Linked DNA regions of Homo sapiens. The protein of the gene in region 1 interacts with the protein of each later gene in a pairwise test. Each region holds a gene or a part of one and is shown in the gene's direction. Other genes may lie near its edges. The genes, in order: CCDC167, MEP1B, GLP1R and AQP9.

Region 1 (7,027 bases):
CTGGGCCCAAACTGTCCACTTTCCATTGGCAAGAACTAAAACCCCACCTGACTGCAAGGGATCAGGGAAATGCGTTCACCAGTCAGGAGGCCACATAGCCAGCTACTGTTTGCTTACTATGGAGGAAGAGACCAGTGTGTTTTCACAGACAGCCTGTAGTCTCACTACAGATGGCACCTCACCTCACAGTGTGGTTGTGAGGATTAAATGAGACATTGCGTTAAGTGCCCAGCACGTGCCTGGCACCGGATTGGTAATCAATACATGGTAGCTCCAGCCTTTGTATTTCTTTTGCATCCTTCCACCATGGCTAAGTCAAACTCGTTCTTGGGCATTCGTTCACTCATCTATAACATGAAGGACTTGAATTTCACCAGGGGTTACAAACTCCTTGACTATGGCCCAAATACAGATCACAGATGTCTTCTGTTTGGCTGACAGACTTTTAAGTTTTTATTTTATTTTATTTTATTTTTAGACAGGGTCTTGCTCTGTTGCCCAGGCTGTAGTGCAGCGGCATGATCTCAGCTCACTGCAGCCTCCAGCCTCCCGGGTTCAAGCAATTCTCGTGCCTTAGCCTCCCGAGAAGCTGAGACTACAGGCGTGCACCACCATGCCCAGCTAAGTTTTGTATTTTTAGTAGAGACGGGGTTTCACCATGTTGGCCAGCTGGTCTTGAACTCCTGACCTCAAGTGATCCGCCCGCCTCGGCCTCCCAAAGTGCTGGGATTACAGGCGTGAGCCACCACACTCGGCCGGATTTTTACGTTTTTAAACTTGGTGGGGCATGTATTCTCCAAGTGCCTTATACTGGGGCAGATTCCATTGTTTTACCCTCTCCATACCACGGTAGATGTTTATATTTGCTATCTTGGTCCCTAAGTTTACTTTTTGCTTGGATATTCGAAGATTTGACATCTGTAACCGTGTGCCTTGGAAAAAGCCTGACATCTGGCTGGCTGTCTCCCCACCTTGCTTCTCAGTTGCCCCCAGCGGGTCTGAGTATTGAATGTGCACTGATGCTCAGTAGCAGTAGATATTGTCCTCTTATTAAAAGTTGTGTGCTCAGAGCCAATGAAGTGGTGATTTAATCAAAAATGTTTGTTAATCTGACGAGTGCAATAAAACCCCCACAAGTGAGTGATCTCAGCACCTGCAAACAGTCTCCACTTGTAATGAAGCAATTACCAAGCAGGCAGCACTCACCCTTAGGGCTGGCTTGGGCCAGCTGTATAAGCAGCCACCTCTTAGGACAACCAGGGCACCCTCTAGCCTCCCCCTCAAAGTGGTTCCTTTTGAGGTCTTTTTATCCAATTCATTTGCCACCATATGAGATCTCAGAGTTGGAAAAAACTGTGAGTTTTAGCTTCTGAGATTTCATTCTTAATAAGAAAAGAAAATTATAGTTCAAATGAGAAATCACCCACCCAGTACTGATTTTAATGTTGTGTGGGAGGAAGGAAAGGTTGAATTTCAGTCTAAACTGATAGGAGAATTTTGACTGATGTAAAACCTGTTTGTGTTTTCGGATCTCTGATGGTAATGAGCTGTTCCTTTGTCATTGCACTTTTCTTTTGTAGCTGGACTGTTCAAACTGGTGTCTTTAGATGTTTCAGTGACCAGTTGGTCTTGAGTTAACAGATGTGTGGTGTCTTAGCCGGTATCCTAAAGTGGATAACTTGGTTGGATCTGACCCCTAGTACAGAAAGTTTATCAGTTTGGAAAGCTTTTGGCTACAAGTTATAGAAAACTGACCTCAATGATTTAAGCAAATGGGAGTAGACTTTTCCCCTTATAGAAATTTGTAGGGGCCAGGTGCAGTGGCTCACGCCTGTAATCCCAGTATTTTGGGAGGCTGAGGCAGGTGCATCATTTGAGGTCAGGAGTTCGAGACCAGCCTGACCAACATGGTGAAACACCATCTCTACTAAAAATACAAAAATTAGCCAGGAGTGGTGGTACACGCCTGTAATCCCAGCTACTCGGGAGGCTGAGGCAGGAGAATTGCTTGAACCCAGGAGGTGGAGGTTGCAGTGAGCCAAGATCGTGCCACTGCACTCCAGTCTGGGCAACAGAGACCCCGTCTCAAAAAAAAAAAAAAAATTTGTAGGTAGGTGGCTACTGGCATTGGTTCAAAAGCTTAGCTATGTCAGAGTTGGTATTTCTGCATTCTCTTCACTGTTTCCTCATGGTCACAATATAGCTGCCACAGCTCCAGTCTAATATTCAACTTTAACTCAGGAAGGAGGAGGAAGGAACAACACTGTCCCTTTTATCAACAAAGCATAAGCTTCCCCAGGAGTCTCCTAGCTGACTTCTGGAACGTCTCATTGGCCAGAACTGGGTCATGAGCAAGCCTAGCTGCAGTGAGGTTGGGAGAGCATCTGCTGAGCTTTTCCACCTTCTGGAGTAGAGGTGGGCAAAGGAGCAGGGGTGGGGAGTCGGTGTTGTGTTGGCCAGTTGACAGTATCTGCTGTAAGGAATAAATGCTAATGGGAGTCATTGAAAATTCACTGGAATCCTTACCAGAAAAAGAGGGCAGGATCGGCTGGGTGCGGTGGCTCACGCCTGTAATCCCAACACTTTGGGAGGCCCAGGCGGGCGGATCACCTGAGGTCACGAGTTCGAGACCAGCCTGACCAACGTGGAGAAACCCCATCTACTAAAAATACAAAATTAGCCAGGCATGGGGGTACATGCCTGTAATCCCAGCTACTCGGGAGGCTGAGGCAGGAGAATCGCTTGAACCTGGGAGGTGGAGGTTGCGGTGAGCCGAGATGGTGCCATCGCACTCTAGCCTGGGCAACAAGAGGGAAACTTCGTCTCAAAAAAAAAAAAAAAAAAAAAAAAAAGGCAGGATCACTGACCATGAGAAGTGGTAGGCTGAGGGGAGAGAATGGCCTAGGCCAGGAAGAGCACCGGAAGGCTTGACGCTTGTGGTTATTTGTATGGTGCCAGCCACTGCAGTAGCCTCCGTGGGGCAGGGCAGGCAGAAGCACCAAGTGTGGCTGAAGACGGTCTCCGCTCTGGAGCAGGCTGTGCACAGGGCTCAGGGGAACCTCCCACTTTCCTGAGACAAGGGCTAGGAGCAGGTGAGTGGACTGTCAATAAATATTTGCTGAACTGGCTCGATTGGCAGGAGGAGGCATTGAACCTTCCACCCTGACGTCTGGGCCCAGTTGAGTGGAGGTCACAGTAGAGCAGGCGGTTAGACGCCACCTTGCTGGGACCCTGAACCCCAAGCCAGGGGCTGGGAGAAAGGCTCGCAGCACGCAGAGGACTGTTCAGGGGCCGCTGACCATTAAATGAGCCTCACCTGCTGCCAGGCGAGAGCGACAGGTCGCCATTGGGCAGGTGATTTCTCGCGGCAGCCTACATCTGGCTCTGCGCCACTTGACGGGGGTCAGGAGACTAAAACCTCATTACCTAGCGCGGCTGGATGGCGGCGTGTGTGGAGTGGCTGTCTGCCAGCATCTTAATTAATGAATTCATAAGGCTCGGGGTGGATGCCAGTTCTTGAAAAGTGCTTTGAGCCTTTCAGCGATGAACAAGCTTTTGCTAGTTTATCAAAAAATAGATATCGGGGGGAAAGAAGACAAAACAAACCCCACACCACCTTCCGGCCCAGGGACAGCTGGCATCTTCGGGCGCGGACTGGCTCGGGCGCTAACTTGCAAGGCTGGCTCGGCCTCCGTCTCCTCGCGGGAAGGCGTCGGGACTCGCGTGGGCTGCAGCGGTTCCCTCGCCTTTCTGACCTGGCATGGGGGTGTGTCCAGGCGAGCGACAAGCCCCTAGGCTCTCCCTGCTCTTCCTGAAAATTGTTCATTGATTAAAAACTGGGAAGGTCTGCCGTCTTCAGCTGCACAACCTGCGAGAGAAATCCTTACAGGGCCTGTTGATGTGGGGAGCCATGGGCGGAGGTTTTTCTGCCCCCACAGAGCTCTGTGAGCCGCCTCCACAGAAAAACATCCCTTAAACGATGTGGGGATAATGGGCCCCTTGGGGTTTGAGGCTTGTCACCTGGAAAATTGAGGCCTAAGAACCCCGTGTGACTTGCTGTGGAGCCTGAAGGCTCCAAATGGAAAGCCCCTGCACTCTTGCCAGAGACCATCTGGGCAGGCACTTGGCTGCTTTACCCATTATAATAAATGTCCTGGGGTCTCCTGACGTGTGAAAATGAGTGAATTTTCAAAAATCCAGTTCCCAGGCTGCTGGGGCTGGAGATGAAACAGCTGACACCACTCTCCAGGCTGTGAATTAGCAAGTGAAAGGGAAGGCTTCGGTACTGCTGGGGAAAGAAGGGTTTATCAGGCCCAAGTAGCCCACCTTTTTCCGTCTCCAAACTGGATCTGTTTTGTGTGAATTTTGGAGGATGCTTTGACAGTCGAGGTGATCTGGGGCAAAATGCCTGGGATGTTTGTGAAGCTCATTGAGTTGGCCCAGTGTAAGGGCAGACGCTGGGCTCCTGTCTCCTCTGTCTCAACAAACAAATTTCAATGAGGGCTTTCCCTCACAGAGAGTATCTGTTATGTAGACAGAAACTGAGCAGAGCCTTGTACAAGATTATTCCGAGTAGAGAATCTGTTGAAGCCAGATCAGCAAGCTTAGATGGGCTTCAGCTGGGATGTGGAATGACTGTTCTGCAGAACTCTTGTCATGAATGTTTTCATGAGGGATTTTGGAGAAAGAGCTTGAAGTGGTGGAAAGAGCATAAGCCCTGAAGCAGAAAAACCCAGATTCAGGCTTCAATTCTGCCCCTTCCCAGTTACACGACCTTGGGCAAGGTGCTGAAAACCTCTGCAAGGGAGCTTGCACCTCTGTAAGATGGAGATGGGCCCTTCCTTGCAGGGCGGTTGCAGACACAGGAAGCTGCCCACAACCTGCCCAGCTCCAGGGGTAAGGTGTGGAGGTTGTGCCCAGGAGCTAGGAGTCCCTCAGAGCTGATGAGCGCTGCCTTCTCCATGTGGCATGGTGGTTAAGGGCACAGACGTGGCTGCCCAGCTCCCGGACTTAATGCCTGTGTGACCCTGGACAGTTACCTATGTCTGAGTCCCCTCATCTGTCAAATGTGGATGCTGATAATACTGCCCACCTCACAGGGTTCTTGCGAGCATTATGTGAGTTAATCGGTGTAAAGCATGTAGGTCAGTGCCTGGCACACAGCACAGACTACAGAAGTGTTGCTGCTGCTGTCACTGTTGTGGTTCCATTTTGCTGGGACTTTTGGTTTCCAGAGGCTGCTTACACTCATGCTGTCATGCAGACACTGGAGACTCTGTGACTTGGCTCGGCTCAGCTACCCTGGCACCACGCTCTTTATTGGAAGGTCTGAGTGCCCAGTAAGGACCTGTCCAGCCAGGTGCAGTGTATGCCCCATTACCACTGCCTGACCCTGTAGCAAACCTGTCACTCGCTGGCCAGAAGCTCCCAAGAGTAAAGCCGGAGAGACAGCAAACAGCTTCCTAAATCAGAAAGCAGAGTGGCCTGTGTAGCCCAGCACCAGGCCCCGGGGGTGCCTTCTGCCCTTTCCCAGAAACAGGTCTGGCCCTAGACAGTGGTTCATTAGGGAGTGGGCAGAGAGCCACCTCCCCGGCTGTCTAGATGCTCTGTGGGAACACCATTCAGTAGGAGAATAGAGTGAACGGTAGCCTGTGGCTCGAACTGTCTCGTGCTTGTTGGCAGAAAAGCTGCATATGAGGCCCCCAACAGCAGCTAGCCGTGGAGCTGGCACCCCATCAGCTGACCTGGCCAGGATGCTGGGGCAGTTATCTGTGCATGAGCTGGCACGAAATTCCCTGCCCCCAGTGAGGCCTCCGTGGGGCTCTGATTCTGAGAGGGCCTACACTCCTGAAAAGATGCCTCGCGGGGATTTCACACGAATTTTACAGTTTCTCTTAACACAGTGGTTTTATGGCATATAGGACCCCAGGGAGACTTCCTTAAAGCTCCCAGAATAAGGTGATATTCCCCAAGTCAGGCTGCAGAGGGGAGTTTGCTTATCTGCCTGGGGGCTGCTGAACTCCAGGCCCGGGTGCTTGGAGCTGCATCTGTCTGATGGGCTCTCAGGGAGGCTGCAGGAAGAGTCCCTGCCCCTGCCGCTGGGCATGAAGAAGCCCTTTCTGCTCTTGGCACCTGCCAGCAGGATTGACGGCCCTACTTGGCTAGGGCCTTGTCCCCAGCACCCCTCAGGCCTACAACACAGCCTCTGCAGCCTTGACTGCTGGGCTGACTTTAGATCTTCTCATTCTTCTGCACAGAACACCCCCTCTGTGGAGGGCCTTTGGTCTCATGGGTCTCCTCGCTGAGCTCACTCCTTCACCCAGCAGGCCTCAATTCCCTGCCCCAGGCTCTGATACTGAGAAGCAGCAGTTCTCAGTAATTTAGGCAGCATCACTACGGGGCTTTTCTGTTAAAAGAACGGACTTGTTGGGTCCCACTCCCTAAGGCCTCCCCTGGGGCCTTTCCCACCTGTCTACCTGAGGGATGCTCCTTCTCCATTCCCTGCCTCATATGCCTCTTTTTCCTTCCTCCTCCCCTCTTCCTTTGTGCTCTGTGTCTCCCCTGCCTAGGCAGACTCCCCAGCCATCCCCCCAGGCAGTTTTTAGCCACTGCTGGTCTCTGGGTAAAGAACAGACTTTCCCCAGGACACCCTTCACACTCTCCAACCTGTTCCTTGGGCCCCTGGACCGCTCACACAGGGCTTCACACAGCGCCTCCCCAGGGCTCAGGCTGGGCCAGATGCCAGGAAGCAGTGTGCTGGCTGACAGTGGGTTCATACCATCGCCTCTCTTACTTCCTGGGGTCCCCAAAGCCCCTGCAGATCGCAGCCCTGTGCCCCCTGCTGACTCATCTCAGTGACTGGGACACAGTGCTTTTTCCCCATGTAAAAATTGACCTTGGTTTTCTGAGTGTAAATATAATGCACGGGTGGTTCTTAATGTTATTGTACAGCAGGGGGCACCTGCTCTCTGCCCCCACACTGTGCCGTCTAGGTCTCTGCCTTGGCTGTCTCTACTTTGCCGGTCAC
Region 2 (6,883 bases), on another chromosome or scaffold:
AATCTTGGCTCATAGAAACAGCTGTGCTTAATAAATGTCTTTCCTTTTCTTTTTTTTTTTTGAGACAGAGTTTCACTCTTTTCAGCCAGTCTCGAGTACAATGGTGCGATCTCAGCTCACTGCAATCCCTGCCTCCCGGGTTCGAGCAATTCTCCTGCCTCAGCCTCCCAAGTAGCGGGATTACAGGTGCCCACCATCACTCCCAGCTAATTTTTGTATTTTTAATAGAGACGGGGTTTCGCCATGTTGGCCAGGTTGGTCTTGAACTCCCGACCTCAGGTGATCTGCCCCACCTTGGCCTCCCAAAGTGCTGAGATTGCAGACTTGAGCCATTGTACCCAGACTGTCTTTATTTTTCTATAATCATACTTTTTTCTTTTTCTTTTAAAATTTTTATTTATATATAATTGTTTATATTTTGGGAGTACATATGATGATCTGATACCTATATACAATGTATAATAATCAAATTAGGGTGATTAGGGTATCCATCAACTCAAACATTTATCTTTTCTTTGTGTTGGGAACATTTCAAGTAATCTTTTCTTGCTATTTAAAAATATATAATAAATTGTTAGCTATAATTTACCTACTGTACTATCAAATACTAAATCATTTATTTTATCTAACTATACTTTTGTACCCCTTAACCAACTTCTTTTCATCTCCTCCTCCCTTCCCTTCCCTTCCTAGCCTCTGGTAACTACCAATCTACTTTCTACCTCCATGAGATAAATTTTTTTTTAGCTTCCAGATATGAGTAAGAACATTCGATATTTGTTTTTCTGTGCCTGGATTATTTCACTTATAATGACCTCCAGTTCCATTCATGTTGCTGAAAGTGTCAGATTTCTTTTTTATGGCTGAGTAATATTCTATTGTGTATATAGACCACATGTTCTTTATCCATTTATATGTTGACAAATACTTAGGTTGATTCTATATCTTGGGTATTACAAATAGTGCTGCAATAAACGTGTGAGTGCAGATATCTCTTCAATTTACTGATTTCCCTTCTTTTGGATATATCCTCAGCAATGGAATTGCTGGATCATATGGGAGTCCTATTTTTAGTTTTTTGAGGAACCTCTATACTGTTTTCCATAATATCTCTACTACTTTACATTTTCACAGTGTACAAGTCTTCCTGTTTCAACACAACCTTTCCAGAATTTGTTATCTTTCGTTTTTTTTCTTTTATAATAGCCATTCTAACTCAGGTAAGATGATATCTTATTGTGGTTTTGATCTGCATTTCCCCGATGATTAGTGGTGCTGAGCATTTCTTCATATAGCTATTGGCAATTTGTTTGTCTTTTTTGAGAAATATCTGTTCAGGTCTTTTGCTCATTTTAAAATCAGATTATTTGTTTTTTTTGGTATTGAGTTGTTTTAGTTCTTTATATATCTTGGTTATTAATTCCTTGTCAGATGGATAGTTTGCAAACATTTTCTCCCACTCTGTGAGTTGTTTCCTCACTTTGTTGAGTGTTTCCTTTGTTGTGTAGAAGCTTTTTAGCTTAATGTAATCCCATTTGTCTGTTTTTGCTTTGGTTGCTTGTATCTTTGAGGTCTTACCCCCCAAAAATCTTTGCCCAGACCAATATCCTAGAGCATTTCTACCATGTTTTCCTTGAGTAGTTTTATAGTTTCAGGTCTTACATTTAAATCTTTTTTTGTTTGTTTGTTTCTTTGTTGGGTTTTTTTTTTTTTTTTGGAGACAGAGTCTTTCTCTGCCACCCAGGCTGGAGTGCAGTGGTGCGATCTCGGCTCACTGCAACCTCCGCCTCCTGGATTCCAGCAATTCTCCAGCCTCGGCCTCCAGAGTAGCTGGGATTACAGCTATGCACCAGTGCAGTGCACCACCATGCCCAGCTTATTTTTGTATTTGTAGTACAGACAGGGTTTCACCATGTTGGCCAGGCTGGTTGCGAACTCCTGACCTTGTGATCCGCTTGCCTCGGCCTCCCAAAGTGCTGGGATTCCAGGTGTGAGCCACCGTGCCCAGCCACATTTAAATCTTTAATCCATTTTGGGTTGATTTTTGTATATGATGAAAGACAGAGATCTATTTTTATTCTTCCGTATATGGATATCCAGTTTCTCAGCGCCATTTATTAAGAGACTGTCCTTTCCCCAGTGTAAGTTCTTGGCATCTGGTTTCTCTGGGTTCTCTACTCTGTTCCATTGGTCTGTTATAATAATTGATATTTTAGGTTCCCATTCACATAGATGTCAAAAATTTAATTGCGGCTAATTCAGGATTCACATTTTACCTTTAGGCTTGTGCCTAACCTTAATTAACAGTCCCAATGCATTGGGAAGGTCCCTTATGATCCCTGATGTCATCTATCCTCACAGGCATCCTCTAAAATATCAGTCCCTCTGTCTGGTCCTTATTTGTGATTCTGTGCAGCCTGCAATGGAGACATCCTTATTCCTATCCACATGGCTCTTCAGGCATGACAGCTTTTTCTGATACTTCTATGCTTCCCTTGGCCCCAGGAGTTATTCTCCTCTTCCCAAGATGTGCCTTCTTCTGTAGAGTCCCTTTGCTTCCTTGTAGCTCTAGCCAAGAAACAGGACCATTTGATTTTGGATCCTATAATATATCTAGGGGATCTCAGGGATCAAGTGAAGAACTGACTATAACTACAGTTTTCAGTTTTCCCATTTAATTCTCATCCTACCCTCATAGGGTGGGAAGTGCTGGCTTGTACTCAGGAAGCAACCTCTCAAACTCCTTGTCTATGCTACATGTCTCTTGATAGTCTTCCTATTAGCACAAAATGGGGTGAAGGCTAAGCTGGAGAGGGGAAGGGGAAACTAGAAAAAAATTAGGTTTTTTTTTTTTTTTTGAGATGGAGTGTCATTCTGTTGCCCAGGTTGGAGTGCAGTGGTGTGATCTCGGCTCACCGCAACCTCTGCCTCCCAGGTTCAAGTAATTCTCCTGCCTCAGCCTCTCAAGTAGCTGGGATTACAGACATGCACCACCACACCTGGCTAATTTTTGTATTTCTAGTAGAGATGGGGTTTCACTGTGTTGGCCAGGTTGGGCTTGAACTCCCGACCTCAGGTGGTCCACCCACCTTGACCTCCCAAACTGCTGGGATTACACATGTGAGCCACCATGGCCAAAAATTAGTATTCAAAAAATATTATCCTGCATCTTAAGTAAGTTGAATATGAAGCCATGGGAACTGAGAGAACAGGTTGTTTCTAAAGAGAAATTATCCCAAGAAAAGAAGGAAAAAGTGAGAAAGAATTAAGAGATGGATTGGGAACATTATTTTATTAGAAAATCAGTGACCATTCCTACTTTTATGACCCATGTCCCACCAGTGTTTGCTTGATGGGAATTTTTAGGGATGAGATACATTGCTATGTTACTACTCTATATGTGAATAACCGGTGTGCCTGATTTCTAGCACATTAATGGATTTTATAACTCAATAAATTATAGGCACTCAATAATTTTTATTAAATGAGTGAATGATAAAAAGCAGTGGACATAACTGGATATATTAAAGCAGCATGGGGCTATATGAGAGGAGGAGTTTCATAAGATCAAGATTAAAAATTAATTTGATATATATATTTTTTGCTTAAGTGGTGTTTACTAGTCTAAGGACCAGTACACATACATTAGAGAATGTATTCATTAAGAAGTCTCAGCCAGGCACTTAATTGTTGACACAGGAAAAAAAAAAAAAAGCCAACAAACCAACTCCGCAGAGCTGTGTTAAAAATACTGGACTTTCATCCCTTGATTGGAGGTATTATTACAGCATCAAGCTGACCTGCAATATGGATCATTGAGATCAAAGGCTATAAATTATAATGTTTGCCTTTAAAGAAGTCAATTCAACCCTGAATGTCATAGTTAGCTACTTTCAACTGGAAGCTACAACATGGATTTATGGAATCTGTCTTGGTTTCTGTTCTTGGATGCTCTTCTCGTGATTTCTGGCTTGGTAAGGAAACAGTATATAGAAGATAATTTAAAAATTTTGGGGCAGTTGATATTGATTGTTAAAGAACAAGTGTTTTTTTTTTGTTTGTTTTTTATACATCTTGAAATGTTGATCTCAAATGAGTGTTTCTTCTTGGAGATTAGGGGTGGGCAGTGTGTAGGGAGTGACAAATAGCCACACCAGAGTAGAGACATTGATATAAAGTTATGTTTTCCTTTCAGTTTCATCATTGTGTAACAAGTTTTCTTTTGATGAGATTATAAATGTGTATTTTGAAAATCATTCCATTTTTACTGCTGAATGAAATGCAGATTGCTGCACAGTAACTTGAGACATGAATGAGTGTCACAGGCACCGTCAGTACTTACAAAGTTTTATAACGTGGTATTTCTCTTATGCTTCTTCATCAGTTTAGACTCATCCTTCTACAGTTTGGACTAATCTTTTCTATCAGGTAGTTTGTATCACAAACCAACCCAAGGTTTTAAATGAAGTTTCAAATGGCTAGTGGAAAACCTTCAGTTGTTATTTTAAAATAACAATTATTATATTGGGGTGATATTCTATGAATAGGAACTAGAACATTGCAAACAAGAGATACAGATGAATACATGTTAAAGTGTAATTAGGAATAAATCCTTGATAATTTTATTCTGTAGGTGCACTGGCATTCCTCTATGAGTGTATGCCTGTGTGTGGTTATAGTGTGAAACATGCAAAGCACTTGTTAATGTCAAAAATGATGGTAACCATCCATCCAGTTCATTCCCACATTTTGTTAAACGCTCCAAATGATTCTAGTATTTAGATATGTAAGCTGTATTTGAATAAAATTGTACTTTACACTTTTGTGACAATTTATTATAGCTTACAATGAGCCTTCTTTCACATTATATACTGTAACCCTCACAATACCCATGCAAAGCAGGTACTGACCATATCTTATGGATAGTCTGAGTACCTGGAAGGTGAACTGAATTACCCTTAGTTAGTAGAACTGGTAACATAACCCAGACAGTCCTATGAGCTTTTTAATTCAATCACACTAAGACATTTCTCAGGTTTACTTAGTTGTTTTTTTTTTTTTTCCTTTGGACATGTAGTCTGAGTTTCATTGACCATTTGTGGAGAATCTATTTTCAGAAAAAAAATTAATCACAAAATGTACCCATTGTTTTTCTTAAATATTTGTATTGTCTTTGAAGGCAGAATTATTCTGGGAGAAACATGAATGCAAAATAACTTGATTAATGAGTCTTGAATAACATTTCTTTTTAAAGAATTGTTATAAATTACAGTATTATTTCAACATTGAGAATAAATTATTTGGTTTTTCAAACATTGCTCCATGAATGCTTTAGAAAATCGTGTGTAAAGTGAGCACTTATTTGAGAGCTAGAGTCTTATGTTCTGCCTTTTCCCCCCCAATTTTTGAAGTTGGTTTCTTGTTTCCTTCACCTTCAAATTGATTTAACAGGCAGTTTCATTTTCCATATGAAATGAGAAGACCCTTTGGTCAAAAAGTCATCTTAAACTTCAATTTAGCCATCCTAAATACATGTCAGGAAGTAATCCATAATATTAATGACAAAACAAACAAACAACAAATGGTTAGATATAAACTGAATCCAAGAAGACCATTCCTGGGCATTATAATAATATGTTTTGTTTATGTGTTTATTTCCCAGGCAACTCCAGAAAACTTTGGTGAGTCTATTTTGAGTTTTGTTCTAGGTTATAGAGAACCTAGGACATATTTAATGCTAAACATCATACATAATTACATATGCATAATTGATGCATAATTGCATTGAACTTTGATCTAATACTGGATTCTTTTGATTTATGGAGGGACATTTTATTGTCCATGTTCCAGGCTTCATATGCCCAGCAAAGAAATAGATGGTATAGGAAAGGCCAAGCACAGTGACTGACACATAGACATCCCATAAATGCTTGCTATTATTGTTTTTGTTATTTTGTGTCAAATCAGATGGACCTAATAATAACAGTCTACTCAGTATTCACTTGCATACTCGGAGATTTGGCCATATTATATACACCTTTACAACTTAAAATAGTAATTCAAGTTTAACTTAAGAATTTTGCTTGAAAGTTCCAAGGTATACTACTAGCAAGTGATATACATGTATGAGTAGATTGGGCTAGTTTGACCAAATTTAATCATTTGTTTGCTATTTAATCTAGTCTTCTAGTCTTTCAAATTATGCTTAATAATATATGGAGCAACCAATTTCTTATTCCCGAAGTCATTTGACATTCAAGGAATGTCGATAGGACAGAATACATACATAAAAGCTCTTTAGAGCCCAACCTGGCTCATAGGAGATTCTTAATCAATCAATCAATCAATCAATGTATGTTGAGTCTGAATCTAGTAGTCACCTGAGGCCAAAAGAAACTTGCTTAGTTCTGATTATATAAATGATAAAGGTTTTCTCCTTTTATAAACATAATGTTCAATTTTTTGTTGTTGTTGTTTTAATCAAAGATGTAGATGGCGGAATGGACCAGGACATATTTGATATCAATGAAGGTTTGTGGATTTTTTTTACATAATCTCTTAAGTAGAGAGTTTGAATCCAATTTGCTAACATGAATTTTTATCTTTACTCTTAGGTTTGGGACTGGATCTTTTTGAGGGTGACATCAGACTTGATAGGGTGAGTTGAAACAGTATAAGGAAGAATCTTCCATTAACCACTGCAAGCCAAATTCAGAGTAACTGAGAAAGATTAGACAGCATGAACTTTGTTAAGCCTAACTATCTCTAAGGGTGCAGAATCATGGTGACACATTTATTCAATGAATATATTATACTCAAAGAAATGCATATAATTGTGTCTTCATCTTTCATTACTCATATTTCTGTGTGGTTCAAGCCACCA
Region 3 (7,027 bases), 1.6 Mb from region 1:
ATCATGCAGATGGAAAAGGTGGGAAGACTGGGACCTGGAGGGGTGATCCCTGCCCAAAGTCACCTAGTTGGAGCAGAGCCAGAACTAGTATCCCCAGGTGTCCCAATACCTGGGCCAGTCTTCTCTGTAAGCACATGGGACAAGAAGCCTTCCTGGATGTAGCTCTGGGTACCAGCCTGGCATTGCAGCTGCCATCTACTTGGTGGCGAGCACCCTGCCAGGTGCTTTACATGCATTGTGCATTTACTCCTCACAGAACCCAGGAGATGTGCAGGGTTAGCCTCACTTTACAGAGGAGACTCAGAGGTGTTAAAACCAGAGTTACGGTGTCACAGTTTCAAAGAAAAGAACTGATCCTCTCCACTAGCATTAGATGATGCTAAGGGGGTGTAAAAATACAAAAAAACTGGTCCCTGCCTGCCCCTCAAGAGTGTCATGAGATGCCTGCACACATGTGGGCTCATGTGTGTGTATTTACATACATGTGCAGACATACAGAACACAATTCTGGAGCCCTGGGTCTCCTTCATGAACAGATGGGGCTGGAGTGGGGAATATTCTCCATGATCAGAGTCATTGTACTTCACTGGATCAGGCCTCCTCAAGGAGAGGTTGGATGTAGGATCTCTACAGCTTCTGGGCAGCTTCTGAGCAGGGTCTCCTGGACCCCATGGCACATGCCTGGGAGACCCATGGGGAGAGGCTAGCTGGGGCCTGTAGCCAGGCCTAGTCGCAGAGGTGCAACCCTGGTGTTCCTTCAGAAAGGAAATGAGAGGGAAGCCACTGCCCCATTCCTGGATCTGCCTGGGCCGCTGGATTTGGGGAGGGGGTTGTTGAGGATGGAGTCCCAAAGTGCTTCCGACCAGGGCCAGTCTGCAGGGCACCTCCCTCCTGCTTCCTCCCTCTTGATGTGACTCTTGTTTCCAGGGGCTGATGGTGGCCATATTATACTGCTTTGTCAACAATGAGGTAAGCTCTGAGGAGGGACGGTGGGGACCCTGGTGGGTGGGTACCATCAGCCCGTCTGGAGTAGTACAATGGGGACTCCCATCAATCTTGCCAGCTGAAACCCCCTACTCACCTCACTGAGGCACTAGGGTTGAGAAGCCATCTTGTCCACAGATTTGGTTTTCTGTGCATGGTCTCTCTCACACATGAACACACACACACAAGTACATGTACAGGTATACCCTAATGGCATGTGACCCTAAGGAAGACCCAGACTCATGTTAAGGGGATCCTGAATGACCCTCTTTGCTTGGTGGTAGTGACTGTCACTTACAAAGTGATTCAACACACACATACCCAAGCCACATGCTTGGGGCTTTAATAATCACTATCTCATTTAATTATGACCCCCACATCCCTCAAAAAAAAACCCTGCTAAAATTCTTATTTCATATTCCCATTTTTTATATATACATGAAAACACTGAAGATCAGAAAGAGTCAGGAACCTGCCCTAGGTTTGGAAATAGTGGCACACATCGCTTCTTAGCCTTTTGGCTAAGGTGAAGTGTGGAAATAGTGGCATGGCAGAGCCAGGATTCAAATTAATTCTGCATTAAAGCAGAAAGTACCCCATTCTTCATACACACAGGCAAGAGCCCTGGCTCACTGTGGGGAAGGGGGTGGCTTTCTGGTGCTAGGATGGGAGAAGGGGGTTCTCGCTGGCCCCACACACTCTCCTGAAAATGTCTGCAGGACAGCAGGCCTCCCTCCCATCCCTGAGATGGTCAGCTCCTGGGAGGAGGGCATGGCTGTGTTCATGGGCACCTGGAAAAGGCCCCTTCCACCAAGGTACTCAGCTTTGGAATCCCAGAGCTCAGGGATGTTGGAGTCAGCACATTAATAGGCTTGTCTTTTTCTATGGGTGTGGGGGATGCAGAAAGGACAGTGGGTGGGGACCTGGGTGTTTCAAGGAGCTATGAGATGGCTCAAAGAAGCAATGTGATGTAGCAGAAAAGATGCAAGGATGCAGGCTTTGGCATCTTATTTGGTCTGATCTGGGCCCCATCACTTAATGAGCTGTGTGACTTTGCCTAAGTTACCTGCCCACTCTGAAACTTAGTTTGCTCATTTACAAAGTGGGGATAATCCTGTGAGGATTAAGAAAGTCTGAAAAAGGTGCGAAAGGGGAACAGAGAACAAGTCCTTCCTTCAAGGTGGGATGCTGAAGGCCCATCCTAGCTCCTCACAGGTGCTGCTTGGCATGGAGAAACACACACCATTATCTCCAGATGCTCAGTAAGCAATCACTATTAGATCAGTATTCAGTGATTCCCAGAGACAGGGGCCTAAGGAATTTCAGAGGATGCCGTGCAGAGAAAATGAGGCTGGGTGAAAGGGAAGGGAGGGGAATGTTCCCTTGTCCCTGAGGCCTCCCCCTGCTTCTGCTGAACTGGCTACCTGTGGGAAGTGTGGCCCTCAGATCTCTAAATGGGAGGGAAACCAAGGTCTCTTAAGGGTTTACTGCATATAAGGTGCTCAGAGTGTCTCATTACATCCAATGCTGTGCAGCAGATGGTATCCCCAATTCACAGCTAAGAACGTTAAGCCTCAGCAAAATGAAATGAGTAGCCTAATTCAATAGACAGAAGATGGTAGAGCTAGTGGGCTGTGGCGGGGGCAAGATCCCACTTAATGCCTCAGGGAAGCAGGTGCTGGGGAGGTGAAGGCAGCGCCAGGCAAAGAGTGGCCCATAAATGGGATTCTGGCTGCTCCTGGGACAGGTCTTAGAGGACCCAGCGGCTCCGTTTGGAGGGTAGGGCAGGGAACAGGCTCGTGACCCACAGGAGGCAGTCCTGGTCCTCCTCCACTGCCATATCCTCAAAATGAGTTTCTTTAAAACTGATGCAAACGAGGAAGTGCAAAAACCTAAGCTCTGTGGGTGGCCTCCCCTCCAGGAATGCTCTCAGCCAGCTGGGTGATGCGCTACCCAGCCCTGAGCTCTGCTGCTTTCCATTCCAGCCCAGTGGTGATGGGGGCAAGACAGGGTGGCATGTATCCTGTGTGGGGATGAGGAGCAGAGGCCTGTAGGGAGAGACTGAGGCTCCCTGCTGCCACCTTGTCATCTTGACCCCCCCACGTCCCCGTTTCTCACTTCTCTATCCTCTGACACTGTCACTGCAGCCCTACTAGCAGACACGTGTGCTTGGCTTCCCCCCCGCCATTGTGAACAGTCTCCCCTGACCCCTGGCTCAGCTGCCTCTCCAGATTCCATCCTTCCAAGCCTAGTCATCTCATCACCTCCCTCCTCATGCACCACCTATGGCTGGCCCACCTTTGTAAGGGGATAGTACTTCTTTGCCCTTGGAAAAAAACTTGATCCTGAATCACCAGGGTTGCACCTCTCTGACCAGGCCTGGCTACAGACCCCAGCTAGCATCTCCCCGTGGATCTTCCAGGCTAGTGCCACGGGGTCCAGGAGACCCTGCTCAGAGAACGGGAGAACCTGTCTCCCTTCAGAGCACCAGCCAGTTCCTTTAAACCCACCCTGAGACTCCTCATGCCCTGGCTGCTCCAGGCACAAGGACAGATACATCATTGTCACTGGGCCACAAAAGACACATGTGGCTCTGGGGCTAAGGCCTCTGTCCACAAGAGCTGTTCTGCAGACCCAGGGTTGCCATGGCAATGCCAGGTACTTGTGACCTGAGGAGAAAAGATGGCTTGAATATTGGTTCTGTGTGGCTGCCAAGGCCTGCACCAGCTGCTGGTGGGCGTGAGTGGGGACAGGGAGGGGGAGGCCTGAAGGTGGTTTTGCTGTAGCTTGTGCCTGAGAGCCACAGTGAGGTGACTCAGAGCCCTGAGTGCTTGTCCCAGCCCTGCCACTGCCGAGCTGTGTGACCTGGGGCAAGTCATTTTGCCTCCCTTGCCTCTGTCTCCCCAGCCGTAAATGAAGGTGAATGAGCTTCCCAATTCACCCCGAATCCTGAGGCTGGCATGGTGCCTGCTGGAGAGGGAGGTCAGGAGGGGTGTGCTGCACTGCAGAGGTCGAGGGCAGGGATGAGGATAAAAATCCGATGGTGGAGGAGGAAGTGTGGTGGCCTAAGTCCCAGCCCAGGTGCTCAGAATCTGTGGTGTTGTCTTTGTGGGTTCATTTTCATAGCTGAGGAACAGAAGGAACCTGATGTGAGATGCTCATGCATTTATGTGTTCATTCATTTGGTTCATTTAAAACACATGTACTGAGCACCTGCTGTATGCTGGGCACTGTGCTAGGTTCAGGGATGCTGAGATGAAGAAGATGTGGTCCCAGCCCTCGAGGTGCTCCCAGGTGAGAGGTAGGAGATGGACCAGGGACAAGCAGGACTGCAAGAGCCACGCAGGCAGGAGGCCAGGGGTTAGGAGCCGGGCATTGGAATCAGGCCAGATCTAGGTTCAAATCCTGGCTGAGCGACCTGAGGAAATAAACACTCTGCACCTCAGTTTCCTCATCTTTAAATGTGGAGCTACTTTGCAGGGTTGATGTGAAAGTCAGCTAAGATAATTAATGGAAAATTCTGTGCATACAGTAAGTGCCCAATAAATATGGTGATTTTCAAGGACAATCGTGATTACAGGGGTCACAGCAGAGGTTCAGGAAAAGTGCTGAAGGAGATGGGGGCAGAAGGAGACACTGTGTGTCAGCACCCTGAGAAGTCCCATAGGTGTCCCTGAAACCTCTCTTTGGTCTCTGGTTTCCCGGAGGTGTGCCTCAGTTTACCATCTTTCCCCCCCTCTCCAGCGGAAGGGCTATGAAACAAGCCTGGCCTCCTGGCAGCTGCACAAGTGGGGGCCACCACTGGACTCAGGGCCCCCATCCCAGCTGTCAGCATGCGCTCCCTTCACAAAGACTCAGCCGGGCAGGGAGCTGGCATACAACAGGGTGGCTGTAGGTGGTGTCTGCTCAGCCTCCTTCCCTCCCCCACTCAAGCTTGGGTTCATGACGCTGCATGGGACACTGGCGTCATCCTGGCAGGCAGCCTCTGGGCCATCTCAACTCTACTCAGTGCAGAAAATGTTCTTTTAAGGGATGGCATGCAGCCATACCAGGCGTCTTGCTGGGCATAGCTGGATGGACGACAAAGGAGGAGAGGAGGGTTGTTTGCACAGGGGCTGGTGGGGAGATTGGCCCCTTATCCACAGCCGCTGGCATCTGGCTGTCTTGGTGACTTGGCCTAAAGGGAAGGGCCCAGACCCCAGACACTCTGGTGTGGGAAGGGTGGGGACTTCAAAGAAGCTCTGGAAAGCAAATGTATGGGAACATCACCCAGAAGAGCAGTCCAGACCCCCCAGGACTAGCTTGGCAGGTTCCAGCTAGGCCTCTCCAGGGACCAGAATCACTGGCCACCACCGGGAGCCACAGCATTGCCACAAACCCTCAAGGGATGGGGGCTCCACAGTGTTACTTGGATTTGTCTCTTTCTGCCCCAACAATCTGGCCCCCAAGCATCAGCCCTCCTGAGAGGCTTTTCCTGATGGGGAGGCCAGAGCCCAGCACAACAGGGATCCTGGCTGACTGAGCTCCCCTGGGCTGCACCCCCATGGTCACTGCAGTGTCTCTCTAGATGGCATCAGTTGAGAAGCCCTCACTGGCTGCCCCTTCCTCCCTGCTGTTTCCCGTCTCAGCCACATTCCTTCCTTCCCTCCCTCCTCCCCTGTGAGGTGCTGGGGCCTGGAGAGAAGCCCTCAGGGAGTTTAGAAGGGTCTGCTGTAGACACCAGGAAGGCTGGGGGTTGCCGTCCCCCTTCTCAAGCATCCAAGCTGAAACTGGACTGTGCGCTGTAAAGACAGAGTCTCTCTTCTCTCTCCCATCTCCTGTCTCCCTGTGTTTCACCCTCCCTCTCATTCTCTTCCGTTAAATAATACTGTGATGGATTGTAAAAGGTACTTAGCTGAATCACAGAGTTTAGAGATGGAAAAGACCAATTAGGTCATCAAGCTGATCTCTCTCCTGAGGAGCTGCAGAAAATAGGAGACAACAATAAACAATTTTATTGGGATATTAATTTAGGAGCCCGAAGGCCTTGACTTGTGTCTCTTAATATAATGCAGTGGATTTCTTCCCTTCCCCACTAATGTAATAGTGGGGCCATTTTGTTAGCCATTGGTTTGCATGATGGCTTTCGTTTCCCTCCTTTTCCCATGGAAGGTCCAGCTGGAATTTCGGAAGAGCTGGGAGCGCTGGCGGCTTGAGCACTTGCACATCCAGAGGGACAGCAGCATGAAGCCCCTCAAGTGTCCCACCAGCAGCCTGAGCAGTGGAGCCACGGCGGGCAGCAGCATGTACACAGCCACTTGCCAGGCCTCCTGCAGCTGAGACTCCAGCGCCTGCCCTCCCTGGGGTCCTTGCTGCAGGCCGGGTGGCCAATCCAGGTGGGAGAGACACTCCCAGGGACAAGGGAAGGAAGGGACACACACACACACACACACACACACACACACACACACATACATCCTGCTTTCCCTCCCCAAACCCATCAGACAGGTAAATGGGCAGTGCCTCCTGGGACCATGGACACATTTTCTCCTAGGAGAAGCAGCCTCCTAATTTGATCACAGTGGCGAGAGGAGAGGAAAAACGATCGCTGTGAAAATGAGGAGGATTGCTTCTTGTGAAACCACAGGCCCTTGGGGTTCCCCCAGACAGAGCCGCAAATCAACCCCAGACTCAAACTCAAGGTCAACGGCTTATTAGTGAAACTGGGGCTTGCAAGAGGAGGTGGTTCTGAAAGTGGCTCTTCTAACCTCAGCCAAACACAGAGCGGGAGTGACGGGAGCCTCCTCTGCTTGCATCACTTGGGGTCACCACCCTCCCCTGTCTTCTCTCAAAGGGAAGCTGTTTGTGTGTCTGGGTTGCTTATTTCCCTCATCTTGCCCCCTCATCTCACTGCCCAGTTTCTTTTTGAGGGGCTTTGTTTGGGCCACTGCCAGCAGCTGTTTCTGGAAATGGCTGTAGGTGGTGTTGAGAAAGAATGAGCATTGAGACGGTGCTCGCTTCTCCTCCAGGTATTTGAGTTGTTTTGGTGCCTGCCTCTGCCATG
Region 4 (7,027 bases), on another chromosome or scaffold:
GGAATCTAGCACAGTTCAGGCTCCCTAAGGACTGGTGGCTTTGGGAACATTTTGGGAACATGCAGCACAACACACTGGCCCATCATGACATCTGTGTGGACAACAGCATCAGTATCAGCTTTGGCAGGTGCAGGAATAGGGGAAGATTGTGTGTGGGAGGTGACTTTCTCATCGTGGCTGCAGCTAACATACTGGTTTGTGGGCACATACTGGCTTGTAAGGTCTGCTTGAAGATTCCAAAAGTAACCAATTTATACTGAGCATAAATGTGAATGGGATCCTATTTTGTGGTCACCGACTAGTGAGGTCAGCAGATATTTGTCTTTTAAATATAAAACATCACCTTATTGTAAAGAAGTTACAGCATCCTGCTCCCCTGGGAATGTTCCAGTCAAATCCAGTCAGTCAGAGGTCATAATACCCTAATTATGTAGCATCCTGCACAAAGCATTTAGGCTGTCTAATGGCAATTGCTATTGATGTAGTATTTTATGACTAAAATAAACTTATTGAAAAAGCAAATAGACTTGCTTTCATTACAAAATATAGGGTTATCTTGATCACAGGATTGTGTATGGGTGGCGAGGAGGAGAGGATTTGCATAGAACAGAACACTGAAGGGGTTCCCTCTGCTCACCTAAGACTTTCATCTTGTGCCCTGTGGGATCCAGCTGTGCCCGCGGGCCCTTTATGTGAATAATCTGATTGTCCCAGCAACCTCGGCAAAGCCAAGAGTTGAGTGCAGGACTCTCTGACTCTAGTTCTCATGTTCTTTCCAATACACTGCTCTGCCTTGTCCTTGTGATAAGCCAGGGTGACCACTCATCTCTGCGGGGAGAAATTTCTAGCAGCCACTTGGCCTCTAACCAGAGGCATCAGGGTGCCACTTGTCCACCTCTCTTTCTGAACCTTTCTGCCTCCTCTCCAGCCCTTTTCCTCATTGCTTTGCAAAGCACCCTTCCAGACATACCCTCTCTAACCCCCAAACAACTATTTTTCTCTGTAGATCACTGTAGTCTGAGCTATCTAAATAAGGCCTCAGATTATTTCTTCAACTTTCTTTTTTTTTTTTAATGGAGTCTTGCTCTGTCACCAGGCTGGAGTGCAGTGGCATAATCTCAGATCATTGCAACCTCCGCCTCCCAGGTTCAAGCGATTCTCCTGCCTCAGCCTCCCAAGTAGCTGGGACTACAGGCGTATGCCACTATGCCCAGCAAATTTTTGTATTTTTAGTAGAGACAGGGTTTCACCATGTTGGCCAGGATTATCTTGATTTCTTGACCTCATGATCCACTCGCCTTGGCCTCCCAAAGTGCTGAGATTACAAGCGTGAGCCACCATGCCCTGCCTATTTCTTCAGCTTTTATATTGAATACCTACTAAGTGCCTTGCATCATGTGAGACCCAAGGTAAATAATAGTTCCAGCCTCAGGATGCTTAGGAGGAGCCAACAAACAGAAACCTACTTATGGGAAATTTTATTTTGGAAGACGAAATTGTTAAACAAAGAAATCTCCCATTGGTAGACTAAACTCAAGGGAGTTGGACTGGAGGTGATCACTTACGGCCCCCTTGGTTTTTTGTTGTTGTTGTTGTTGTTTGTTTTTGTCGCCCAGGCTGGAGTGCAGTGGCGCAATCTCTGCTCACTGCAACTTCTGCCTCCTGGGTTCAAGCAATTCTCCTGCCTCAGTCTCCTGAGTAGCCAGGATCACAGGTGCGAGCCACCACGCCCAACTAATTTTTTTTTTTTTTTGAGACGGAGTTTCGCTCGTTGCCCAGGCTGGAGTACAGTGGCACCATCTCGGCTCACTGCAACCTCCGCCTCCTGGGTTCAAGCAATTAGCCTGCCTCAGCCTCCCGAGTAGCTGGGAATGCAGGTGCCTGCCACCACGCCCAGCTAATTTTTTCTATTTTTAGTAGAGACGGCGTTTCACCATGTTGGGCAGGCTGGTCTCAAACTCCTGACCTTGTGATCCACCCAACTCAGCCTCCCAAAGTGCTGGGATTACAGGCATGAGCCACTGCACCTGGCCCCGCACCCCTTTTCCTTTCACAATGGCTACCTCCAGGCAGCTGGAGGCAGCTACTCTGCAGCAAGCCTCTGGGAGAAGAGAAACTTCCCACTGCCCTGTGTGCCCCCTCCTCCCTCCTAACCCCTGTTTCTAGCCTTCCCTGGTAAGGTGTACTGCTAGTCTCCAGAACTGTGGCTTTCCTGGATTTGAAAGGAAAACACAACAGTTGAAGTGTTTATAAGGCTTTAGGAAATCATCTGTGCTTCAATACACTGGCATTTTCTTGCTCATTGTAGCCACTGAGTGGCAGGGGCAGGTGAAGAAAGGACTCTTGTGGCTTAGCCAGCAGCCAGAATCCCCCACCCACTGCAAGTCCATTTTGCCCTGGAGACTTGGAAAAAGCATAGCTTTCTCCACAGGGAGTGGTAGAGGCTTCTGGAAACAAGTGCACCTATTGGTTCTGTGCAGGATCATCATCATCATCATCATCATCATCATCATCACCACCATCATCCCTCCTTTGTTTACGACCAAGGCCACAGCCTGAAAGTCCACATCTCAATGTGGTGTCTCTGATTCCCCCTCCACAAAAAATGTCATCTGTATTCCTCAAATGAACATCTGTTTTCACTAGGAAGTGAGCCTATATGCTCAGACAATTTTTTTAAATTCTTTATTTATTTTTCTGCCCACAAAAGCAGAGAAGCCTTTATAAACACGGTGAAGATGGGCTGGAAGTGGTATAGCAGAAAACACAGGCTCTAGAATTCAGATAAACCTGAATCTGAATCCTGGTTCTTCCATTTACTGACCATGTAGCCTTAAGAAACTTACTTTCCGTCCATGCCTCAGTTTTCTCATCCGTTAACTGGAGTAGTACTCATCTCATTGGGTTCTTAAGAGGATCAAATCCACCTACTAACCCTACAATGGTGTCTGGTAAGTATTTGATAAATGCTGCTGTTGTTGTTACTAGCAAAGCCAGCTGGGGATGTTAGAGACCAACCACAGAGCAAACTCTCTATTTGATTTTATGGCTGGATGCAAGTCAAGGAAGCCGATTTCTCTAGCTGGAGCTTGGGCTGGGCTCAGGAAAGGGTTGCTACATTTCTGTATAGGAGAGAAATGCATTGTTTATGCAGAGGAACTGAGAACAAGCCACTCACACTGTGACCACCTCAAAATCAACTATGCCCCCACCCTCAGCAACCCACAGTCATTTTCCTTTAAAGATACATCTCTTTTGAGCTTGTTTTTATATCCTCTGGGCATGGCCGGAGGAACTGCTAGATATAGATTTAAATCTTATACATATATTGGATAAGCATATTGACTTTTAAAAGATATCGAAGTTAATAGCTACATCAGTCTGTTTGGGGTGACTGCTTTATAGATAGAGGGATTCAAGCCTATTAAAAAAACAGCCACTTGAGCACATCAAGTTTCTTTTTATACCTGACTCTCTTTTCATCAAGATAAACATTCTAAACTGTTATCCAAGGATGCCATGAAAATGATCATTCCTCCTTCTCTCCCTGCTCAGATACACACTCTCTCTTTCACGTGCATACACACCCCTCTTTCTCCTCATAGGCAGTAGTTCTCTGCCTAGAAGACTGAATTCCACCTGAGGTCTCTAGATGGTTTTCTGTATATTCTTCTTCCTAACCTGCCCTCTCACTTCTCCAATCTTCCCTTGCAGGTGGTCACATCAACCCAGCTGTGTCTTTAGCAATGTGTCTCTTTGGACGGATGAAATGGTTCAAATTGCCATTTTATGTGGGAGCCCAGTTCTTGGGAGCCTTTGTGGGGGCTGCAACCGTCTTTGGCATTTACTATGGTGAGTAAAGTCCCTGAGTCCTAAGGTTAGGAAGAGCTGGGCATAATTTGAAAGTCAGAATTACTTGGTAGGCACAGGCGAGAAAAAGCAAGGACGGGAAGCATTCTACAAGTGACAGCAAGTTCTAAATTTGAGAAAATGAGGCCATATTACCATTCCAGCAAATTCGTGAATCCTGTTAATGAAAATGGTCATATCTTAAATGGGGAGCAGAACTTAAAGGAAGCCTGTCTTTGTGCCAAGCCAGCACTGCAACATACACATCCATACAACAAGCAGTAGGCCAGTGGCTTCCCCACTGCTGTCTCTGATTTGGCTGGGAAAAGAGGTGTTTTCTGGTGACAAAGGTGTGACCAGTAAGTATTGAGAGAAGGACTCTGGGAAGATGTCTTTGAAGGAAGAGACACAGCAGAGATGTGGGCTGGGTGGGAGCCTCATTGCCCTTCTATCAAACAGCCAGGGCTTCCACTCTGCAACAGTCCTTGGGAAAAACACAGTATTGGTCATAGAAGACCAGACTTTAGCTCTAGCTGTTCAGTAAATACCTGTGCAACTTAAATAAGTCATCTGATCTGACTAGCCTCAGTTTCCTCCTCTGGAAAATGAGGGAATTGAATCAGATGACTCTCGAGGCCTTTCAAACTAAAACACCTTGGTGTTCCCATGAAATCAACTGTTAAAGCAGCTCCTTCCTTCTAACCCAAGGTAAGCCTTAATACATTATGACTTACCCAAACTGAAGACCTTAGGAAGTAGAATTTATGAACCAGGCCTTATAGAAATGGGTCATGGAGGGCTGGGTGTGTGGTGGCTCATGCCTGTAATCCCAACACTTTGGGAGGCATAAGTGGGAGGATCGTTTGAGCCCAGTAGTTCAAGACCAGCCTGGGCAACATAGGGATACCTCGTCTCTTCAGAAAAAAAAATTAAAAATAAGCCAGGTGTGGTAACTCACATCTGTAGTCCCAGCTACTCAGGAGGCTGATAAGAGGATTGCTTCAGCCCAGATCAAGGCTGCAGTGAGCCAGGATCATGCCATTGCACTCCAGCCTGGGCAGCAGAGCAAGACCCTGTCTCCAAAGAAGAAAAAAAAGAAAAAAAAAAAGGAAAAGAAATAGGTTATGGAAAGGGACTTTTCCCCATAGAGTGTCTCTCTGAGAATTAGAGTCTAAAAGGGCTAAAATGGAATTCAAGAACACACAGGAAATTCAGAGCCCGCTGCTGTGGCAAGAATGGCCTGGGGTCAGTGCTAGCTGTGGCAGTGGCTGCAATACCCCTGGCTCTAAGGGCATCTTCAGTATACTGCAACACCCTCAAATTCTGGAGTGGTATTAGGGGTTACTGAGAGCCCTCTGGGAATTATAAATTATTCCTAGAGCAAGACCAAGCCCCACTTTGGCTTACAGTTGACCTCGAAAACTCCAAGAATTCCCCCAAAAGAGAACTCATTCCCAGGACCCTATCGAAGAATAATTTGTCCAAGTTTGCAGTGGGCCATTCAGAGAGGCCAAAGGCCTTCTTCCTTTGACCCTCCATCCTGGGATTCACCTGGGCATCTCTAAAACTATCATTCCTCGGAAGTAGAGAGAGACAAATGACATGGCTATGCCAAGCTCAATCTGAGTGACTGGTTGTTTAGCACAAGGCTTGGCACAGGCCTCCTTCAACTCTTCCCAGGGAACACTAATGTGCCAGAGCTTTCTCTTTCATAGATGGACTTATGTCCTTTGCTGGTGGAAAACTGCTGATCGTGGGAGAAAATGCAACAGCACACATTTTTGCAACATACCCAGCTCCGTATCTATCTCTGGCGAACGCATTTGCAGATCAAGTAAGTGTAGATTCAACAAAGACTTAACTTTGGTGAAAAGATATGCTCTCATAAGGGGAATGCATTGGAGAATTAGAGACCAATCAGAAAGGAGAGATTATATTTCCAAAGGCAGAGGTTGCTGGGCATAACCCAAGCTTTCTTGATAATCGTTTTACCTTTACAAGGAGCTGATACCACCAGAAAAGTTTTCTCCTTCCTCTTTAATACGTACACTTGTTTAACATTAGTTGAGATCCAGAAAAGAGTGAATGACTAAACATTTCAATCCCTGTAGACACAAATGGACTTCACTTCACTATTGACTCTTTTGAACAAGTGGTCTAAGTGTGGAGGCCACAAGAGAAGATATTTCTATTTCAAATCAAAGACTGTGAAGGGTGGTAGTTGAGCCTAGGGGATCATCAATCCTCTCTGTCTCACCATGTGCATAGGTTTATTTATTTAAACTCTCAAGGTGGCTAGAAGTATCTCTGCTTATTGACCTTTAAACAAGCTTCTAGCACCCAAGCATACTGTGGTGTAACCAATAGCACACCTATTTGGTCAGCTTATGGCAGGACTAACATTGTCAACTCAAAAGACTCTTCTTCCCTTACTGTGTCCCAAGAAGGCTGCTGGTTATCTTGGTCAGGGCAGTGGAAGGAAGGCTATATTTTTCAGTATCTCTAAGTTCTTCCTCTATGATCAGGACTTATACAGTGGAGCAGATCAGAATGGGCATGTGTATAAAATGGATCTTCCAGTTCATCAGCTATGCCCACCTCCATTCAATGTATGGATGAAAAACTATGCCCTCATGTCCTCAGCTTTTTTACTTTCCACTTTCATCAATAAATCAAACAGGCAACAAGTGTTCATTAAAAACTCACTATGTGCTTGGCCCTTTGTCTGGAGCTTGAAAGACTGACGAGTAAATGTGAGTTGTAAAGATCCAAGATGCAGAGTCTGAATGCTTGAATTAAAATAGCTGTTCTGCCTCCAACTTCCTGCGTGGCTTCAGCAAAGTACTGAACTTTTTGGGTCGCAAGTTATTCACTTGTAAAATGGGGATAATATGAGCCTTCATGAAGTTACTTATGAGGATAAAAAGAATAATATGAGAAAAACGCATTGTAAGCAGTATCTGCCCAGAAATTTTGAATCTAGTTGAAGAGCATTGAACAAGGAAACAATGCAAAATAAGATATAATTAGACAGAGCTGGGCACGGTGGTTCACATCTTACTCCCTGCATTTTGGGAGGCCAAGGTGGACAGGTCACTTGAGCCCAGGAGTTCACTACCAGCCTGGGCAACATGGCAAAACCCTGCCTCTACCAAAAATACAAAAATTAGCCATGCGT

Evidence for each region.
Region 2: the proteins of CCDC167 (region 1) and MEP1B interact in a protein complementation assay, tested with the Homo sapiens proteins (one study listed by IntAct).
Region 3: the proteins of CCDC167 (region 1) and GLP1R interact in a protein complementation assay, tested with the Homo sapiens proteins (one study listed by BioGRID).
Region 4: the proteins of CCDC167 (region 1) and AQP9 interact in binary tests that used the Homo sapiens proteins (3 or more experiments, as listed by UniProt).

What each region holds. Positions count from the first base shown.
Region 1 is NC_000006.12:37,489,882-37,496,908, reverse strand, and holds part of CCDC167 (coiled-coil domain-containing protein 167), read left to right. Parts: intron 1-7,027.
Region 2 is NC_000018.10:32,186,160-32,193,042, forward strand, and holds the start of MEP1B (meprin A subunit beta isoform 1 precursor), read left to right. Parts: upstream 1-3,879; 5' UTR 3,880-3,911; coding exon 3,912-3,974; intron 3,975-5,662; coding exon 5,663-5,681; intron 5,682-6,486; coding exon 6,487-6,531; intron 6,532-6,614; coding exon 6,615-6,658; intron 6,659-6,883. UniProt on the Homo sapiens protein: Membrane metallopeptidase that sheds many membrane-bound proteins. Exhibits a strong preference for acidic amino acids at the P1' position. Known substrates include: FGF19, VGFA, IL1B, IL18, procollagen I and III, E-cadherin, KLK7, gastrin, ADAM10, tenascin-C.
Region 3 is NC_000006.12:39,079,771-39,086,797, forward strand, and holds part of GLP1R (glucagon-like peptide 1 receptor precursor), read left to right. Parts: intron 1-927; coding exon 928-969; intron 970-6,135; coding exon 6,136-6,303; 3' UTR 6,304-7,027.
Region 4 is NC_000015.10:58,169,354-58,176,380, forward strand, and holds part of AQP9 (aquaporin-9), read left to right. Parts: intron 1-3,714; coding exon 3,715-3,852; intron 3,853-5,564; coding exon 5,565-5,683; intron 5,684-7,027. UniProt on the Homo sapiens protein: Aquaglyceroporins form homotetrameric transmembrane channels, with each monomer independently mediating glycerol and water transport across the plasma membrane along their osmotic gradient.